Homo sapiens: one gene and its partners. The protein of the gene in region 3 interacts with the protein of the main gene of each other region in a pairwise test. Each region holds a gene or a part of one and is shown on either strand. Other genes may lie near its edges.

Region 1 (7,034 bases), on a different chromosome or scaffold from region 3:
TTTATCATCGATAAGTGCTTTCTTATACATCTAGCTCTTTTAAATTTAATAACCAACACTCTGAAGTAGAGATATTACTGTTATTTTTTAAAATAATAGCCAAGGTACTATACATTTATTGTCCTATTATTAATCTTCGCAATGACCCAGTGAGACAGAGACTATTTTATTATTCCTGTCTTGCAGGTGATGAAAGAGGTTAAACAAATTTTCCAAGACGATGTGGCTAGTGAAACAGATCTGTGACTAGAAGCAAAGCCCTTCTCTCTCTCTCTTTTTTTTTTTTTGAGACGAAGTCTTGCTCTGTCGCCAGGCTGGAGTGCAGTGGCGCGATCTCGGCTCACTGCAACCTCCACCTCCCGGGTTCAGGTGATTCCCCTGCCTCAGCCTTCCGAGTATCTCGGACTACAGGCATGCACCACCACGCCTGGCTAATTTTTTGTATTTTAGTAGGGACGGGGTTTCACCATGTTGGCCAGGACGGTCTCAATCTCCTGACCTCGTGATCCACCCACCTTGGCCTCCCAAAGTGCTGGGATTACAGGCATGAGCCACCATGCCCGGCCAGCAAAGCCCTTCTCTTAACGAGTATGCTGTTTTGCCTCCCTTTACTCTTCAGGGCAACTGAAACTTCAGGAATATGTGACCTGGCCAAGGTTGAATAGCTATGAAGTAGAAATGCTTGAACTCGGGTCGGTAGAATTGTGTTATGGCTAACATCCCACCAAATAATCAGTTGTAAACAGAAAGTTTTAGAGAAATGCACAGTTTTAAAAAAATTAAACAGATTTTGGAAATATACAGGTGTTATAATTTAGATTTTGGAAATATACAGGTGTTATAACTTAGCTTGTTTACATCATTGGCCAGATGATAACGGGCCTCTTCATAGTTTTTCTTAGCTATATAGAGAAGTCCCAGATTCCGATGCAGTAAAGAGTGGGTGGCATTACTACAGTCAGTTGATTTGAGGACTGTCCACTGGGCTTGGAATAGATATTCTTCAGCCTGAACGATTCGGCCCAGACCTGCCCAAAAGCAGAAAAGAAGGTTATAATTCATATCCAGGCCAAAGAACACATGAGGAAATATGAGTCATTACCCATTCACTCATGTATTCATTGACTCAAGTATTTATTGACACAGAAAAACTCATACAGGAATGTTCACAGCAGCCTATTTGGAAGAGTAAAAAAAAAAAAAACAGAAACAATGTAAATGTCCATCAGCTGATGAGTGGATGAACAAAAGGAGGCATCTCCATCTCCATCTCCATCTCCATCTCCATGAGTGGAATATTACTCAGTCATAAGAAGGAATGAAGTAGTGCTACCTGCTATAATGTGGATGAACTTTGAAAACACTATACTAAGTGAAAGAAACCAGACACCAAAGGCCACATATTGTATGATTCCATTTATATGAAATGTCCAGAATAGGCAAATCCATAGAGACGGAAAGTAGACTAGTGGTGGCCAGGCGACAGGGGGAGTCCAATGCAAGGGAGGCACTAACAGGGGGTCCAATGCAAGGGAGGCACTAAGAGGGAGTAACTGCTGACAATTACAGGCTTTCTTTTAGGGGTGATGAAAATGTTGTGGAAATAGATCATGGTGATTGTTGCACAACCTTCAGAATGTGCTAAAACCAACCACTGGATTGTCCTTTTTTTGTTGTTGTTGTTGTTTTTTTGAGGGAGTCTCACTTTGTTGCCCAGACTGGAGTGTAGTGGCGCGATCTCGGCTCACTACAACCTCTGCCTTCAGGTTCAAGTGATTCTCATGCCTCAGCCTTCCAAGTAGCTGGGACTGCAAGCATGCACCACCACGCCCCACTAATTTTGTATTTTTAGTAGAGACAGGGTTTCACCATGTTTGCCAGGCTGGTCTCAAACCCCTGACATCAGGTGATCCACCCACCTCGACCTCCCAAAGTGCTGGGAATACAGGCGTGAGACACTGTGTCTGGCCTTAATTGTTCTTTAAAAGGGTAAATTTTATGATATGTGAATTATATCTCAATTGTGAAATATATATATGCATATTTAATACCCTTTCTGTGCCAGGCCTTGTGTTGGGTGATGGGGAATCAAAGTGCAACATGAAAACAAATATATTTACAATATAGTATAATTGCAATAGCAACACAAGCTTTGGAAGTGTCAGAGGATAGGAAATGTTTAATTCTATAGATGAGATGGAGAGGGACACTGAAGCAGAGTCTGAGCTGGGTTTTGAGGATGAATAGAAGTTTTCCAGGTAGATAAGGCAGGGAGAGCATCCCAGGCAGAAGTAACAGCATGTGCAATGTCATAGAAATATGAAATAATATGTTATGTTCATAGAACTATATAGAGTCACAGCTGCAGGGAACTGGTTCCAGAACCCCCATCAGATACCTAAATATAAGGATGCTCAAGGCTCTAATATAAAGTAGTGTAGTATTTGCATATAACCTATGCACATCATTCCCTATGCTTTAAATCATCTCTAAATTACTTATAATACCTAATACAAAGTAAATGCTATGTAAATAGTTGTTCTACTATATCATTTTTGTCTTTTTTGTTTACATTTTTTCTTTTTTTGTTTATAAGCCCACAAGTAACATCATGTATTGTTTTGTTTTGTTTTGTTTTTTTGAGACGGAGTCTTGCTCTGTCGCCCAGGCTGGAGTGCAGTGGCGGGATCTCGGCTCACTGCAAGCTCCGCCTCCCAGGTTCACGCCATTCTCCTGCCTCAGCCTCCCAAGTAGCTGGGACTACAGGCGCCCGCCACTACGCCCGGCTAATTTTTTGTATTTTTAGTAGAGACGGGGTTTCACCGTTTTAGCCGGGATGGTCTCGATCTCCTGACCTTGTGATCCGCCCGCCTCGGCCTCCCAAAGTGCTGGGATTACAGGCGTGAGCCACCGCACCCGGCCGTATTGTTTTTATTTGTATCATTTTTAATCATTGTATTATTTTTAAAAATATTTTTGACCCATGGTTGCTTGAATGGGCAGATGCAGAACCTACAAATATGGAGGGTGTAGGGACTGTATCGGCCTGTGATGCTGGAGCACAAATTGTGAAAGACAGAATGGCAGAAAATGAGGCTATGGTGGTAGGCAGGGGGCAGGTCATGGAGGGCTTAGTGAGTTATACCAAGGAACTTGATGCATGTGGATAAAAACTAGAGGATTTTCAAAAAGGGCGAGAGAATCAGATTTAAATTTAGAAAGATCCTCTGGAACCAATGTGGAGGAGGGACCAGAGGGGAGGAATAAAGGTAGAAGATTCACTGGAAGATGTCTGAAATAGTTCGGACAAGCACGCTTAAGAGCCTGAAACAAGACAGTGAACTAAAGAGGAGGAGATCAAAAAGAGACAGGAAGTAAAATGGACAACACACGGTTACTAAGTAATGTGGAAGGTAAGAGAAAGGAAAGCCACATTTATTGCTAATATTTAGATACTCTTGACACTTAAAGCTTTTTGTGTATTACATATCATCTTTATATATACAGAGGCCTGCCTACCTGCTTGACTCCTGGGGAAATTTGTCAGAACAGAATAGAAAGCCACTACGTCAGTGTGCTGCAGGGTAGGAGGCGTGCTCTGGGGGCGAAGCATTGGTGTGATAGGTGCTGCAGCAGAAATGGCATCAACAAAGGGTTAAGAGGTAAGGACACGAACCCCTCATAAGCCAACCCTCTGCTCCTCTGTGTCCTTCCTGTCAGACCTAGTTCATATGTAAGCATGCTTTTATTCTAGTTGTAACCCTACATCACTGAATTAAAGGAAAAGAGATGAAGAGGAAGCAGTCTACAAGAAGAAGGAAGTAACTTTGCCTGATGGAAGGTCAAAGTGCAAACTAAAATGGGAAACTACTAGATTAGGAGCACGAGGCCTAGTCCCTGATCCTGGCTCATGTGAACATGGCAAGTCACATCTTCCCTCCAGGCTTTGTCTATAAAATATGAGGTTTAGGCTGAAGTCCTCTCACATTTGAAGAAGCAAATGACTCTTAACTAAGATTGTTTAGATGGGAAAAAAATGGGACAGGGCATTGACAAATATTGGAAATTTAAAATTTTCAACATCCAGTTCTCACTCAAGGAGGCAATGCCAAAGAATGAAGACTCCAAGGCCCAGCTGAACCAGCATCTAAACAAGCATCAGTCCTAAAGGAAAAGGCATACTTGGGAGAATAAACTGTGAGGCTAGAGAGAGAGAGTACGGTGAGAAGAATGGGCTACTACTAGCCCATGAGATTACAGTCAGAACTAAGCTTGTGACCAGTGAGTGCGTAAGTTCAGGCCTGCCTCTTATGGACAGTGCCTACCTGGAGAGGCATAGGGTGAAGTGGAGGTGGTGGAGACATAAAGGAAGTGATACTATCCCTTAGGGTGATTTTACTAGTGTATGGAATTGGGAAAGGACAGCCACTTACAGACCAGTGGTACTTGTCTGAAGGGTGAGGCAACAGGCTTACACTGGGTTAACGGCAGATCTGGGAGATATTATGGGAGAAGATTTTGCAGGACTTGGTGATGAAAGTGAAGGAATGCAGCATACAGCAGTCACAGCTGAGTCAAAGGTTGTGGCTGTGAGGTGCCCAGGGGAAGAAAAGGGAATCTGTATTTATTGAAGACCTGTTATTTGCCCAACATTGTGCTAGTCCCTTTGCATCGGTGGTCTAAGTCTGCTAACAACCCTGTGAAATAATCATCAGATGAGGAATTTGAAGAGGAGGCAACTTCATTCATTCATTCAACCAAACATATATTCACCTAATTGATTGAGTCTCTATCACAATGCATGATGCTCAATGCACACTAAGACATGATCCCTGACTCCAAGAAGCTTAAAATCAAGTGAAGTAGGCATACAATAAATAGACAAAACATGAGTGCTGTGAAGGAAATGAACAGAACACAGTAACCAAAATCCTAGCTCACTGCAGCCTCCACCTGCTGGGCTCAAGCAATCCTCCCACCTCAGTCTCCCAAGTAGCTGGGACTACTATAAGTGCATGCCACCATGACCGCCTAATTTTTTTGTTTTAAGAGATGAGGTCTTGCTAGGTTGCCCAGGCTGATCTTGAATTCCTGGGCTCAAGAGATCCTCCCATTTCGACTTCCCGAAGTGCTGAAATTACAGGTGGGAGTCACCATGCCTGGCCAGTTTAAGCAGACACCTGAAGGATGATCAAAAGCCAGCCACGTATGAGAGAGAAAAGAGCATCCCAGGCAGAAGGAACCATATATGTGAGAGCTCTGAGTGAGGAAGAGCTTGGTGCCTACGATCACCCAGACAGTAAAGAAAGAGATGATATTTGAACTCAGGCTCTCCTGCTTCCAAATCACTCCAGTCTGAAGTAATCTCTAAGATGGGAAAGAAACATGTGCACAGGAAAGTGATTTCTTTAGACTTCCAGAAACGTTAGCAAGGTTTTAAACCAATGACTGTGAAGTTACAGTGAAATCTTCCATTTAGACAGTACTTTCCAGACTTCAAAGCACTTTCATGGTCATTACACTCGAACTCATTTCACCCTTAAAAGAATCCTGTGAAGACAACTCAGATTCAACACATACTTACACAGTGCTCACGAGGTTTCAGGTACTGTGAAATTATCTTTTTAGTACCTTCTCTGTGCTAAGTACTGGGCTGAGTGTGAAGACATCCGTGATAATTAAGAATAGACACAGATCCAGTTCTCCCCTGAGCTTACAGTCTACTGGAGCAGGGAGACAATTAAATAATCTCATCAATGAATACAATTATTAATGGACTAAGTGCTCAGAAGAAAGGAGTAGTTCTTTTTTTTTTTTTTTTTTTTGAGACGGAGTCTCGCTCTGTCACCCAGGCTGGAGTGCAGTAGTGGTGCGATCTCCTCTCACTGTAAGCTCCGCCCCCCGGGTTCATGCCATTCTCCTGCTCCAGCCTCCAGAGTAGTTGGGACTACAGGCACCCGCCACCACGCCCGGCTAATTTTTTTGTATTTTTAGTAGAGACAGGGTTTCACCGTGTTCGCCAGGATGGTCTCGATCTCCTGACCTCGTGATCCGCCCACCTCAGCCTGCCAAAGTGCTGGGATTACAGGTGTGAGCCACCGTGCCCGGCCAGAAAGGGTAGTTCTTTAAACAAGTATATTAAAAATGAGACCCAGCTGGGTGCGGTGGCTCACACCTGTAATCCCAGCACTTTGGAAGACTGAGGTGGGTGGATCATTTGAAGCCAGGAGTTCAAGACCAGCCTGGGCAACATACTGAAACCCTATCTCTACTAAAACTACAAAAAATAGCTGGGCGTGGTGGTGCGTGCCTGTAGTCCTAGCTACTCGGGAGGCTGAGGTGGGAGAATCACTTGTCCCTGGGAGGCAGAGGTTGCAGTGAGCCAAGATCAGGCCATTGCACTCCAGCCTGTACAACAGATCGGGACTCCGTCTAAAAAAAAAAAAAAAAAAGGGGAGACCCAACCTGGTCTGGAGCCCTGGGAAAGCTTCTAGACAAGGCAGTAGTAACCCTTGAGCTGAAACCTGAAAGATGATAAGGAGTTAATTTGGTGAAGGGAAGAGGAGGAGAAGCAGAGAGAGTGGCTACAGAAAAGCCTTTCCAAACAAGGAAATCATCATGCTTCTGAGGAACTGAGAGAAGGCCGGTCGGTGTAACTGGAAGGGAGGGAGAAAATAATTCAAGAGAGACAAGGTGATAGAATTGAGGTGAGAGAATTTGTTAACGGCTAGATCAAGCAGAGCCTCATGGGTTGCTTTAGAAATTTGATCTTTATTTAGAGGAGTGATGGGTCACATTTTTGTATGCAAACCACATTGGAGGGAGGCCAGAGATGATGTGGGGAGACCAGTTAGTAGGCAGTGGTCTAGATGAGAGATGATGAGACTTGGGCTAGGGTGACTTTTCCAGAATCCCATAGCTAGCCAGTGTCAGAGGTAAACAGAACCTGGGCTGTATTTTCTTGTCCAGTGCTTTTCTCATTACTTTGGAGGAAAGACAGTCTGGAATGGGGTGTCAGACCTGGGCAGGGTGAG
Region 2 (6,129 bases), on a different chromosome or scaffold from region 3:
CTAGGACTTTTCCCCCTAACACCTTCGGTTTGGGTCTCCAGGTATCTAAAAACTGTATTTAAATATGGTCGAGTTTAAGGACTGCAACTCAAGTTTCCCAATGTGGATGTCTGTGAGCCCCCACACATGAAAAAGTCAGAACTTGACTGTATTTTAAGAAGAATCTCTGTTGAGGGAGGAAGGCAGAGCAGTGACTTGGAATAGGGGTGCACCATGCTGAATGTGCTGATCATGCTAAGTCCAGGTCCTCAACCTCCTCCAGTTTCCTTAGTGAACTAAGGACCAGTGGAACCAGGAACCCTATCTTGTGGGTTACAGGGGCCAGCAGCAGGATCACAGTGGTAGGCTCAGCAAGGCGTCAGGTGAGAACCTTTATTTCAGTGATAATTCATTTTTCTTGATAACTGGACTTTAAGAAATAGAGGGGCAAAATTAAGAAAGTATTCCTTGGGGCGGGATGAAACCCTTCTACATCCTGACACCAGCAGACACAAATCATAAGTGATAAGGATGCACAAGGACTAATTTCAAACATACCAGGATTTTTTTATTTTTCAGTGTAAAAATCAAACATGATAAACCTAGAAAACTATCAGCAGGGCTATTTCTTACAGGGTTCCAGCAAGGGTTAGCATTGTTACATTTCAGAAGCTGACTTTCTTTAAACCATCTTTACAGAGGAGTAAACTTCACAGTTCCACACATGGCTGGGCTCCAGGTAGAACTCCATAGGAGTGACGAGGGAAAGTCACCACTGGGCAGGGAGGGCATTTCTGAGAAATGCAGATGAGAGGAGAGGCTGTGAGCACAGGCTGTGTCAAAACCCAGGGCAAGGGCTCCCTCCCGCCTTCCCTCCCAGTGGGAAGGCCACCCTGAGCCCCAAACCACATTCTGTTCCTTCCTCGTCATTCTGCAGACAATGGTCATCCACAGACCACACGTGTGGTGGCTTTGGCAACCAGAAATTTAAAATAAGCTATGGTTTTTCCAGTAGCCAAAATGATCCTGCACCAAAGCTCATAGACTGAGAACCTGAGCATGCAAAACCACAGTCTGGGTGAAGGGATGTCTGCTTTGTAAATGACCTGCTAATTCTTTGCAACCCACAGTAATTTGGTTTCTGTGAACCCACAGAAGCAGGCCCACCAAAAAGGGCCTTGTCTGCTAGCCTGGAGTATACATGAGTCACTGGCGGTGGGATCAGTCATTTTTTAGGCTGCCCCATTTTCCTAACATGTTAAAATGTGTGTTCTCAGTCTTTTCAAGAGAGGAAGAAGCAAAGCGGCACTTACAGAGTGTGAGATAGACACAGATCTGTGGCGAGGGATTGGGGAAGGTGGGTGGCATCTTGGGACTCTCTCCAGGCTTTCTGGAGTGGGGTCAGTGGAGAGATGAACAGTGAGAAACATTTGAAATAACTCAAGTTTTGGAGCAGCGGGGGGTGGGGTACTAATGGCTGAGGACTCACAGACAGTGAGGGAGCAAAGCGCTTTGACTTCCCTGGGTGCGACACCATGAAGTGTCTATAGCACGTGGTTAGCTCACGCTGGTTCCAAGGGTCAGCAGATCCTCTGCCCTTGTGCATTAAAACAACATGAAGGAAACTGTTAGAGATCAGTTACCTCCATAATTCATTTGTAAAGGAATTGCTATTATGATCTAGTATGATCTTGGGATATTTTTCATGTCTTTAAATTTAGGACACGGTACATTTTCCACTGAAAATTTACAATCATCCAACATAATGCACACCACCCCTCAAAGGTAACATTAGCTCATATACAAAATCATGGAAAACCTCACAACATCCTTGGAAGGTAGATATTGTTATATCCTTACAAAAATTTAATACACCCATTAACATTCCTATTTCAAATAGCTCAATCGATATCAACACATAAGACAGCCCACAATTGTGATACAGTATTAAGAAGAAACTCAGGCCAGCCGCGGTGCCTCACGCCTGTAACCCCAACACTTTGGGAGGCTGAGGTGGGCAGATTACTTGAGCCCAGGAGTTCAGGACCAGCCTGGGCAACATGGTGAGACCCTGTCTCTACAAAAAGTACAAAAATTAGCTGGGTGTGGTGACCCACGCCTGTAGTCTCAGCTAGTTGGGAGGCTAAGACGGGAGGATGGCTCGTTGCTTGAGCCCAGGAGGTTGAGGCGGCAAGTAAGCCTTGATTGTGCCACTGCACTCAGCCTGGGGAAACAGAGCGAGACTTTGTCTCAAAAAGAAAAAAAAAAAGAGGAAACTTGTATCCAATTTATTCAAACTGCAAAACCCTGTGTATCTTCATAACAATGGTGGGGCAAAGACTATCTACAGCTGGGGCAAGGGAGAGGCACAGTCTTGTGTTACTTTACAAGCTCTCAGAAGTTTAAAGCCCACAATTGTCCTTCAGGCTCTTCTGAGTCCATGGTCCTAAAGGGTCAGGAGTCCTGAACCCTGGCTTATTCTCAGAACCATTCAGTCGTGCTGCCTTGGAGAACAGAGTCCTTTTCCTGAGGTGGCCCAGGTCCAGCTGCTGGTTTCAGATCAAAATTGACCTCCTTCATCGGCACTTATATCTCAAATCATTCTCCTTGTCTGAACTCTGGATATAGAGGTTTTTTGAACTATACTTTCTGTGTGAACACAAAAATAGCTTCCCATTCTCTAAAAGATGAGGTATCACTATATATCGGGTTTTTTTCTTCTGTTCCTGGTGCTAACTTTTAGGACAAAGTTTCACCACTCCCTTTTCTCTTCTTGAGCTCACAAGTCCCGATGCTGACTCTTTGAGTCCTCAGATAGCCAGGCTCTTTCACATCTTGAGTGTCCCAGAGTTTCCAAATCTCTGCTAGAGTCCAACATACCTCTTCTCAGTGGGGTACTCTTTAAAGTGAGGACTTAAACATTTCCATTGTGGTCTTATCACCTGGGATTATATGTAACAGTACTATTTTTTTCCTTAAAACATTCTTTTTTTTTTTTTTTTTGAGATGGAGTCTCACTCTGTTGTCCAGGCTGGATTGCAATGGCGCGATCTCGGCTCACTGCAACCTCCACCTCCCAGGTTCAAGCAATTCTCCTGCGTCAGCCTCCCGAGTAGCTGGGATTACAGGTGTGCACCACCACACCCAGCTAATTTTTGTATTTTTTTTTTCGAGATGGAGTCTCACTCTGTCACCCAGGCTGGAGTGCAATGGCACGATCTCGGCTCACCACAACCTCCTCCTCCTGGGTTCAAGCGATTCTCCTGCCTCAGCCTCCTAAGTAGCTGGGATTACAGGCATGTGCCACCACGCCTGGCTAATTTTGTATTTTTAGTAGAGACAGGGTTTCTCCATGTTGGTCAGGCTGGTCTCGAACTCCCAAACTCAGGTGATCCGCCCGCCTTGGCCTCCCAAAGTGCTGGGATTACAGGCGTGAGCCACCGCACCTGACCCTCCTTAAAACATTCTAAACCTCACATTCAGTAGGGCTTGGGGAGGTGGGGGTGGTACAGGAAATAGGAGAATAATAGTGATACAGATGCTACCTGGAAAAACTTTGTTCTGTCTGTTCCTCACGAAACAAAGCCGAAAAGAAAAACTTTATGTGGATGTGAGATTTGATAGTAACACAGTGTTTCACCTGAGCAAAATTTTGTGTTTTTAAACATTTCTGTTTGCCAAAGAAATCTGAGGTTGTGGCTGGGCGCAGTGGCTCTTGCCTGTAGTTCCAGCACTTTGGGAGGCTGAGGTGGGCAGATTGCTTGAGCCCAGGATTTTGAGACTAGCCTGGGCAGTATGGCGAAACGCCATCTCTGCAGAAAAATACAAAAAAAATTAGCTGTGCATGGTGGTGTGCCTATAGTCCCAGCTACTTGGGAGGCTGAGGTAGGAGGATTGTTTGAGCCTAGGAGATCAAAATCTGAGGTCATTTTATATCTGGCCGATTTTGAGTATGGGCCTAACAAAATGTTAAGCACTGCATTTAAAAGGTGAGAAATTTTGTCACTGACAAAGTCAGAAGCTGTGTCAGGAACAGCTCACAGTGGGTCATAAAGCATAAGATTAGCTGGCTTATCTGTGCCAAGGCGAATGTCTTTTTGGGAGAATAACTTGAGGAAACTAAAGACTGATGAGTTCATTTTCTCTCTTTTTTTTTTCTGGTGGTAGTGGTGGGGGCTCACGGGAGAGACACTTCTATTTAGTTTTCTTTCCGTAGGAAGTACCGATGCAACACTTCAGGTAGTGACAGAAAACATTTGGAGAGCTGGGCATTGTTTGTGCATGCCTGTAATCCCAGCTACTTGGGAGGCTGAGGCAGGATTGCTTGAGCACAGGAGTTTGAGTCTGGCCTAGGCAACATAGTGAGACCCTGGTCCTCTAAAATATACATACATATATATACATATACAAAAAAAATAAAAATAAATTAAAAAATTAAAAAACACCTGGAGCACTGGTTCTGTTTCTTTTCCACCCTCAGCCCAGTTCTGTCACCTTGGCTGCAAGGAAACTTTGCCTGGGTTTTTTTGTTTGTTTGTTTGTTTTTGTTTTAGACAGAGTTTCGCTCTTGTTGCCGAGGCTGGAGTGCAGTGGTGCCATCTCGGCTCACCGCAACCTCCGCCTCCCGGGTTCAAGCGATTCTCCTGCCTCAGCCTCCTGAGTAGCTGGGATTACAGGCATGTGCCATCACGCCCGGCTAATTTTGTATTTTTAGTAGAGATGGGGGTTTCTCCATGTTGGTCAGGCAGGTCTCGAACTCCCAACCTCAGGTGATCTGCCTGCCCCAGCCTCCCAAAGTGCTGGCATTACAGGCGTGAGCTATCGCGCCCGGCCCTTTGCATGGGTTTGGTTGTTCCTCAGACCGTGGCCTCCTGGGTGTATGGTGGAAAGCCCGCCTGATAAGAGGCTGGTGGGAAATGAAGGAGAGGGGCCTACAAGGCTCTTGTTCAGAGGGAGTCTGCATGAGAAAGTACAGGTACTATCTGAAGCTGCTCCAGGGCTTCAGTGCCCAGCAGTGGCAGATGCAAGTCCTGACTCTGCCCTTCTGCTAAGATTCTCCTTCACCCTCACCTCCCCAGCCCTGGCAAGGGGTTTGTTAATTAGTACAGCATAAGGGGTATGTACAGAAGGCAGCGTTTATCTGTGTGATGGTAACCACTGCATATCTGGTTCAACTTCAAGACTTAAGGATGCAGAGTTTCCACACATAAATTTTTTCTGGAATTGATGGGCCCCAATCTAGGCTCAGAATGCCACAAAGAAAGTGCCTTTGTGAGTGGTCACCTTACTCAGAAAACTAACCTCAGAAGAATAGAAATCATGCAGCAAATTCATTAGTCACAGGAAAAAGGAGGATCATATCTATAAAAAGAGTCCCCAGGCTGGTGGAATGGGCCTTGGTTTCACAATCTTGAGATGCAAAAGGTGGTCTCAGGCTGGGTGCGGTAGCTCATGCCTGTAATCCCAGCACTGTGGGAGGCCAAGGCGGGCAGATCACCTGAGGTCAGGAGTTTGAGACTGGCCTGGCCAACATGGTGAAACCTTGTCTCTACTAAAAATACAAAAATTAGCCGGGCTTGGTGGTGAGCACCTGTAATCCCAGCTACTTGGGAGGCTGAGGCAGGAGAATTGCTTGAACCCGGGAGGCGGAGGTTGCCGTGAGCCGAGATCGCGCCACTGCACTCCAGCCTGGGCAACAGAGCGAGAGACTGTCTCAAAACAAAAGAAAACAAAAAAAGTTGGTCTCCTCTGCAAAGACTTGAACACTAATCTGGTGGAAAGGCTTCCTTTCCCTCGTTTTCTCTTCTACTAATCCCTGCTTCCAAATTCTCTTTCTCTTGTCCCTTGAAGAACCAACAGGATGTGCGATATTTCAAGAACGTAATGAGCAACTCCTCTTTCACAAAGGGAATAAGCAATCTGGCATAGCTTGGAGTCTAGTATTACGGAAATACAGTGATATACTGAAGACTACACACCAAAATACATCCATTCCTTTAGCTGAAGTCTCAAACATGTTGGGACTGTTGCCATGGAATTTCATAAAACCTTTTTTCCTGAGACAGACGCCATGCCACAAAGAAGGATAAGCCATTTGTGCAGTCTGAGGTGGAACATTTTAATTACTGGCAGCACATAGACGAGTTGAGT
Region 3 (7,979 bases):
GCCTCCCAAAGTGCTGGGATTACAGGCATGAGCCACTGCACCTGGCCTTTTTAATTAAATTTAAATTGTAAATGTGGTCACTGTAGGAAATATGTGTATTACTTATCTACTGCTATGTAACAAATTACTCCAAACCTAGTGGCTTAAAATAAATACTTAGGGCCAGGCACAGTGGCTCATGCCTGTAATCCCAACACTTTGGGAGGCCGAGGTGGGCAGATCACAAGTCCAGAAGTTCAAGACCAGCCTGGGCGACATCATGAGACTCCATCTCTACAGAAAATGCAAAAATTAGCCAACCATGGTGGTGCGCACCTGTGGTCCCAGCTACTCAGGACGCTGATGCAGGAGAATCACTTGAGCCCGGGGGGCAGAGGTTGTAGTGAGCCAAGATCACACCACTGCACTCCAGCCTGGGTGACAGAGTGAGAGACTGTCTCAAAAATAAATAAATATAAAAAAAACTTAGATCTCCATTTCTGTGGGTCAGGAATTCAGGAGTGACATAGCTGGGTCATTTGGGCTCAGGGTGTCTCATGACATTGCAGTCAAGCTGTCGACTGAGACTGCAGTCACCTAAAGCCTGTTTCCAAGGTGGCTCACTTAAGGTGACTGCTGACCTGAGGCCTCACTTCCTGTCACATGAGCCTCTCTACAGGCTGCTTAGGTGTCATGGTGTGACAGCTGGCTTTCCCAAGTGAGTAATCAAAGAGTGAACAAGGAGGAAGCCACAGTACCTTTTATGATGTAGTTTGCAAAGTTGCAAACCATCACTTTTGCTTTTTCCTATCTGTCAGAAGGGAATCAGTTAACCCAGCCCCCACTCAAGGGGATAGGGACTGGGCTCCACCTTTTGAAGAGAATATCAAAGAATTTGTGGACATATTTTAAACTACCATGCTATGTTTAATTATGGCAAGTATGGTCACTGTAGAAAAACTGGAAAATAGGGACAAGCAAAAAAAAAAAAAGTCACTTATAATTCCATGACTCAATGGATGACAGTACTAGTTGGGTATATATAATTCCAATATTCAAAATATATATTTACTTTCTCAAACTATAAACACACTGTGTACTATTGTGTAATCTTCTCTTTCACACAATGTATTGTATGTATTGTAAAAATACCTTTCACGTCAAATATTCTTTCCTAACTTTTTTTTTTCTTGAGACGGAGTTTCCTTCTTGTCGCCCAGGCTGGAGTGCAGTGGTGCAATCTCTACTCACTGCAACCTCCGCCTCCCGGGTTCAAGCAATTCTCCTGTCTCAGCCTCCCAAGTAGCTGGGATTACAAGCATGAGCCACCCACACCCAGATAATTTTTTGTATTTTTAGTAGAGATGGGGTTTCACCATGTTGGCCAGGCTGGTCTCAAACTCCTGACCTCAAGTGATCCACCCACCTCAGCTCCCCAAAGTGCTGGGATTACAGGTTTGATCCACCGTGCCCAGCCCCTCATAATATTTTTTAATGGCTGCATACATTTCATCATATATATGTATCATAACTTATTTAACGAATTCTATTATAGGACACTTAGGTTGTTTACAAGTTTTTCCTGTTTTACACATTTTGTTAAATAAACATCCCTACGACACATTTATTTGTACAATCTTCACTGTTTCTTAAATTCCTAGAAGTAAAATTTCTGGAATACAGTTTGCATAATTTTAAAACTTCAAACACCTGTTACCTAATTTGAGCAGAATGTTTACTACAATATTCAAGAGTCCATTCAGCCAATGTCATATCTATGATAAAACCTGCAAAAGTTCGGATATTAATAACTGTAAGTAAATTTGTTGAGAGTGACTGAAATCACTATGGGATGAGAAGTTGCTATAGAAATTTTACTAAAGAGTGAACTAGCCAGGCACAGTGGCTCACACTTGTAATTCTAGCACTTTGGGAGGCCAAGGCAGGTGGATCACTTGAGGTCAGGAGTTTGAGACCAGCCTAACCAACATGGTGAAACCCCATCTCTACTAAAAATACAAAATTAGTCAGGTATGGTGGTGCACACCTGTAATCCCAGCTACTTGCGAGGCTGAGGCAGGAGAATTGCTTCAACCTGTGAGGTGGAGGTTGCAGCGAGCCAAGATTGCGCCTGGGCAACAAGAGCGAAACTCTGTCTCAAAAAAACAGAGTGAACTTCACACATCTGTCCCAGCAAACTATAAATGGTATATAGCAGAATTCTGGTATTTTCCATTCTGAGTTTTTTGTTCTTTGTTTTAATTAACTTTTTCTTAATTTGTTTTTTGGATAGAATAGATTAACTGCTTCAAAATCCAAAAGCTACTGACTGCCCCCCGCACCACAGACACCCAGTCCCACTGCCTGAAGGCAACCAGTGTTATCAACTTCAGATATTTTATGCATATCCAATATGGTCTTTTCTGTTTTACACAAATAATAGCACACTGTACTCAATTCTACCCCTTCCTTTTTTTTATCACTTGTAGTTTATTTTGGAAATCATTTCACATCAATATACAGAGAAGATTCCTCATTCTTTTTTTATAGTTGCATATTATGTGAATGTGTCTTTTTTTTTTTTTTTTTTTTTTGAGATGGAGTCTTGCTGTCGCCCAGGCTGGAATGCAGTGGTGCAATCTTGGCTCACTGCAACCTCTGCCTCCTGGGATCACGCCATTCTCCTGCCTCAGCCTCCCGAGTAGCTGGGACTACAGGCACGTGCCACCTCACCCGGCTAATTTTTGTATTTTTACTAGAGACAGGGTTTCACCATGTTAGCCAGGATGGTCTCAATCTGCTGACCTTGTGATCTGCCCACCTCGGCCTCCCAAAGTGCTGGAATTACAGGCGTGAGCCACCACGCCCAGCCTGCCATTATTTTTTTAACCAATATTCTATTGGCAGGAATTTAGGTTTTCTCCAATCCCTTACCAACACAAAATAACTTTGTGTGAACATCTAATAGTCTTTCAATTTAGGAATGAATGACTTAGCCACGTTTGAGTAAAATGGTGCCTGTTCTGGTCTGGATTCCTTTCTGTCTTGAACTGTCCAAAGTTCTCCTCGCTCTAAACCCTTCTTGTGCCAGAATGTATCCTTTATAAGACTGCTTTTCTTCATCTCTGCTTTTGAATTATCTAAAAGCAAGTAAAAAGTCTTATTATTTGTAAAGCATTCATTCTTTTAAGAAGTTATGTAAAAATAAAGCTTTGTTTTTTACAAAAGATTTTTATATAATTCACCCTTTTTATTGTTTGAAATCTTTTTATTTCAATACTTTTGGGGGAACAGGTGGTGTTTGGTTACATGGAAAAGTTCTTTAGTGGTGATTTCTGAGGTTTTGATGCACCCATCACCTGAGCAATGTACACCGTACTCAACAGTGTAGTCTTTTATCCCTTACCCACCTAGCACATCCCTCCAAATCCCCAGAGCCCATTATATCATTCTTTTGCCTTTGCATCCTCATAGCTTAGCTGCCACATTATTCACCCTTTAGTTCCAAGTACATTCTGCTGTTGCTGGGACACAGGAAGGCTGTTTTAAACTCTACTTCCTCTGATGGAAGGGAGAAATTTCTGATTGACATCAAGCAGAAATGGTTCCATGTGTGCTTCCTCTCCTCAATAAACCTCACTCCAACCGCAAGGGACTTTCCCATGAGCCCCTTATGAAATGCCACTAGCCAAATTTCCCCTTATTTTAGCGATGTTTAATGTAACTGTTGAAAGCATTTCAGGCTGGGCCTGGTGGCTTATGCCTGTAATCCCAGCCCTTGCAGGCCGAGGTAGATGGATCACCTGAGGTCAAGAGCTCAAGACCAGCCTGACCAACATGGCGAAACCCTGTTTCTACTAAAATAAAAAATTAGCCAGGCGGGTTGACGTGCGCCTGTAATCCCAACTACTCGGAAGGCTGAGGCAGGAGAATCGCTTGAATCCGGGAGGCGGAGGCTGCAGTGAGCTGAGAACGCGCCACTGCACTCCAGCCTGGGCGACAGAGCCAGACTCCGTCTCAAAAAAAAAAAAAAAGCATTTCACACCAAGTATCACTAAAGCACAGATCCTTGGGGCCTTTGCAATTGCTGTTCTCTCTTCCTGTAGTGTTCTTATCTTCATAAACACATGGCTTGCTTCCCCACCTCTTCAAGGGCTCCGTTCAAATGACTCCCCCCCGCCCCGCCTAACCTCTAATTTCCAGTCTCCTTCCTCTCTTTTCATGTCACCACCACCTGATTTACGTAGGCGTTTGTGTCTCCCCTCCTTGAAACTTAACTTCGTGAAGGTAGAATCTTATCTGATTTGGTGCAGTATCTCCATAACCCAGTTAGACAGTAAATTTTTGTTGAATTTACCAGTGTATGGTTACTGTCCCAATTCTGGACACAAATTCTATAATACATATGAAAAGGAGCTGAAAATATATAGTAATACATAAATGTAAAACATTATTGCTGCCTGAATTTAACTTTTGCTGACTGGATCCACAGACAAGAAAGAGAAATACCAAATACAACTAATTCAACTCTGTTTATTTTTGACGAAACCGATTTCTTTCATTCAGTTCATACTACGCGTCCACACTGTGCCTCCAAAAATATTTGCCCTTATAACTGAATGCTCAGAAAGGCTAAGAAATCTGCCCAAGGTCCCCTGGCAATCCAGCCAGAGATGTGAGTCACTCTTAAGGTTGGATTTAATACAAATGTTTGAAGGACGGAGCGACAGGCCAGCTGCCCTAGGGAAGCAAAATGCTAAGTGCTCTGATGCGAGGACCGGAGGACAAGGTTCGCGGATGAACCACAGGAACTTCCGGGTTTTAAAGATCCTGGCGCCAAGTTCAGGGCGTTGACCGCGAAGGACGAGGCGTCCCCGTGACGTCCTGCTCTTCCAATGAACTTCAGGCCTGCGGAGACGACGGAGAACGGAAGTTCTCTGCCTGTGTGCTGGTTGGTTGCGCGTTGAGGCCAGCCCCGCCTCCCATCTTCCGGTCTCCTCAGAAGTCGCTTAGCTCTTCGGTGGTTGTCCCACGTCCGGAGGCCTAGCCGTCGCTTACCTAGGATGCCGCGTGGAAGCCGAAGCCGCACCTCCCGCATGGCCCCTCCGGCCAGGTGAGACCATCGCAGGGTTTGAGACCAAAGCGCGGCCGTCCGGACTCTACTGGGGCAATGACGCAGAGGGAGGCCGCGGGCGGGGGTGAACTAAGGTCGGCTGCGGCGTGGGCTCGCCTCTGCCAGGCGGGGGTAGATTGAACGTAAAGCCTATGTTAGGGGAGTGTGGGGAGGGAATTCACTTACGGAAAAAGCTTCCTATCCAAACAACGGGAAAGGCATAACGTTATGGCCAGGTGGTAGGAAGGCATAAATTTTGACCTAGCTTGATTTCGGGGAAAAGAGCACCCAAGGAAATAATCCGGAAATGGTCAGAGGGAGCGTGATACATATGAAGATTTTTAAATACGTGCAGGACATAATTAGTCTTTTGTTATTTGAGAAGGGGTCTCGAAATTGTTGAAAGCATCTGAACGTTGAACAGATGAGGAATAGTTGAAGTTGCTTTTGGTATAATAGTTCAGACGAGTCACTTTGGCCAGTCTTGTTTTGTAATGTGTAAAATGAAGGAATTGGACTAGATTATTTCCCCAGTTGACCATCTTTAAGTCCTAATTAGAATGTTTATTTATTTATATTTTGAGTCAGAGTCTAACTCAGGCTGTAGTGCAGTGACGTAATTATGGCTAACTGCAGCCTTGACTTCCTGGGCTCAAGCTATTCTACCACGTCAGCCTCCAGAGTAACTGGGACTACAGGCATGCGCCACCTGTGCACCACACTTGGCGACTTTATTCTATTTTATATTTTAGCAGAGACAGGGTCTCATTATGTGGCCCTGGCTGGTCTCAAAGTCCTGGCCTCAAATGATCCTTTCGCCTCCACTTCCCTAATCACTGGGATTACAGGCAAGAGCCACCACTCCGCAGCCTATGTTAATTATTTGATCCGTCAATAAAATGTAAACTCCATGAATGCAGAGATTTTTGTCTCTTGTTCACAGTTACATTACCAGCGCCTTGTAGTTACCTAATACTTGAATGAATGAATCCTGTAAGAATCTTTCTAACTTTTAGTAGTCTGTATTTCTTATGACATGTTGGATATGTCTTTAAAGATACTGTGGGCTATCCGAATACATGGAAATTGTTGCAAAGAAGCAGAAAAAACTAGTATGTCCTAGGCTATTACTATTATAAGAAAAGATTAAAGTGGCCGGGCGTGGTGGCTCATGCCTGTAATCCCAACACTTTGGGAGGTCGAGGCGGGTGGATCACTTGAGGTCAGGAGTTCGAGACGAGCCTGGCCAACATGGTGAAACTCCGTCTCTACTAGAAATACAAAAATTAGCTAGGTGTGGTGGTGCGCGCCTGTAATCCCAGCTACTTGGGAAGCGGAGGCAGAAGAATCGGTTGAACCCAGGAGGCAGAGGTTGCAGTGAGATTGGATCGTGACACTGCACTCCAGTCTGGGCATCAGAGTGAGGCCCTGTCTCAAAAAAAAAAAAAAAATTAGGCCGTGCGTGGTGGTTCACACCTGTAATCCCAGCACTTTGGGAGTCCGAGGCGGGTGGATCACCTGAGGTCAGGAGCTGGAGACCAGCCATGGTCACCATAGTGAAACCTCGTCTCAACTAAAAATACAAAAAATTAGCCGGAGGTGGTCGCGGGTGCCTGTAATCCCAGCTACTCGGAAGGCTGAGGCAAGAGAATCGCTTGAGTCTGGGAGGTGGAGGTTGCAGTGAGCTGAGATTGCACCATTGCACTCCAGCCTGGGCAACAAGAGCGAAGCTCCATCTCAAAAAAAAAAAAATTGAAGAGAGAAAATGATGTAAATAATTTGAAATGAAAATCTTGAGGTCCATTTTAATATGTAAGTTATTTTAAGTTGACAATTTCCAAAACTGGTTGGAATTGGGAACTTGATGTTTTTTTCTTTTCTTTCACAGCCGGGCCCCTCAGATGAGAGCTGCACCCAGGCCAGCACCAGTCGCTCAGCCACCAGCAGCGGCACCCCCATCTGCAGTTGGCTCTTCTGCTGCTGCGCCCCGGCAGCCAGGTCTGATGGCCCAGATGGCAACCACTGCAGCTGGCGTGGCTGTGGGCTCTGCTGTGGGGCACACATTGGGTCACGCCATTACTGGGGGCTTCAGTGGAGGAAGTAATGCTGAGCCTGCGAGGCCTGACATCACTTACCAGGTGGGAATTTAGGCAGCATTTCCCTTCCATGGGTGGATTTTATGAGAAAAGCCAGACGTTTGTAAGTTCCTTAAGTGTAGGAATTGTCTTTGATTTTAGAACCCACTGTGCTGTTAATAGACAATGGGTTTTAAAGCCACATTTGGCCGTTGAGTTACTGCCTTAGGCCAGCACCAACAAGTACTGTACAAATTGTGTTTCTTCCCAAGGAGGAGACTTACAACAGTCCACTTGACTCACTGTAAAACAACCACTTTTCCCTTTGAATATTTCATCCCAGTGACACTTCCTACTAATCTTGTCTTGATCTTAGTTAACAAATCAAAAATCTCGCATAGCTGTGTGTTCTTTTACGTGATGTTTGCCATTACCCATCTTTCTGATGTGTGTGGGCTTTCTAGTCTAATGAGCATAGGTGTGTATACTCTTGTATTTCCGGTGTGCTTGAAACTGCTCCATCCAGTTTTCTATAATAGTACCATTTTTCCTCCCTGAAGCTTCAGTAAACCATTTAGTCTTGATAACAAGATAATAATTCCACTTTATTTGCATCTTTATTTAGGAATCTTTCTGGTTGTAATTGGAATTTTGTTAAAACTGTTGGCTTTCAGCTTTTAAATATTTTCACTTTTGGCTGGGAACGGAGGCTCATGCCTATAATCCCAGCACATTGGGAGGCTGAAGTGAAGGGATTGCTTGAACCCAGAAGTTTGAGACCAGGCTGGGCAACATAGCGCAACCCTGTCTTT

What was found. Proteins that work in one complex are often made in the same cells at the same time.
Region 1: the proteins of CHCHD2 (region 3) and ZMYND12 interact in binary tests that used the Homo sapiens proteins (3 or more experiments, as listed by UniProt).
Region 2: the proteins of CHCHD2 (region 3) and IKZF3 interact in binary tests that used the Homo sapiens proteins (3 or more experiments, as listed by UniProt).

The regions. Positions count from the first base shown.
Region 1 is NC_000001.11:42,438,998-42,446,031, forward strand, and holds part of ZMYND12 (zinc finger MYND domain-containing protein 12), read right to left. Parts: intron 1,029-7,034; coding exon 859-1,028; intron 1-858. UniProt on the Homo sapiens protein: Required for sperm flagellum function and male fertility.
Region 2 is NC_000017.11:39,757,193-39,763,321, forward strand, and holds the end of IKZF3 (zinc finger protein Aiolos), read right to left. Parts: 3' UTR 526-6,129; downstream 1-525. UniProt on the Homo sapiens protein: Transcription factor that plays an important role in the regulation of lymphocyte differentiation. Plays an essential role in regulation of B-cell differentiation, proliferation and maturation to an effector state.
Region 3 is NC_000007.14:56,103,477-56,111,455, reverse strand, and holds the start of CHCHD2 (coiled-coil-helix-coiled-coil-helix domain-containing protein 2 isoform 2 precursor), read left to right. Parts: upstream 1-4,979; 5' UTR 4,980-5,042; coding exon 5,043-5,092; intron 5,093-6,980; coding exon 6,981-7,230; intron 7,231-7,979. UniProt on the Homo sapiens protein: Transcription factor. Binds to the oxygen responsive element of COX4I2 and activates its transcription under hypoxia conditions (4% oxygen), as well as normoxia conditions (20% oxygen).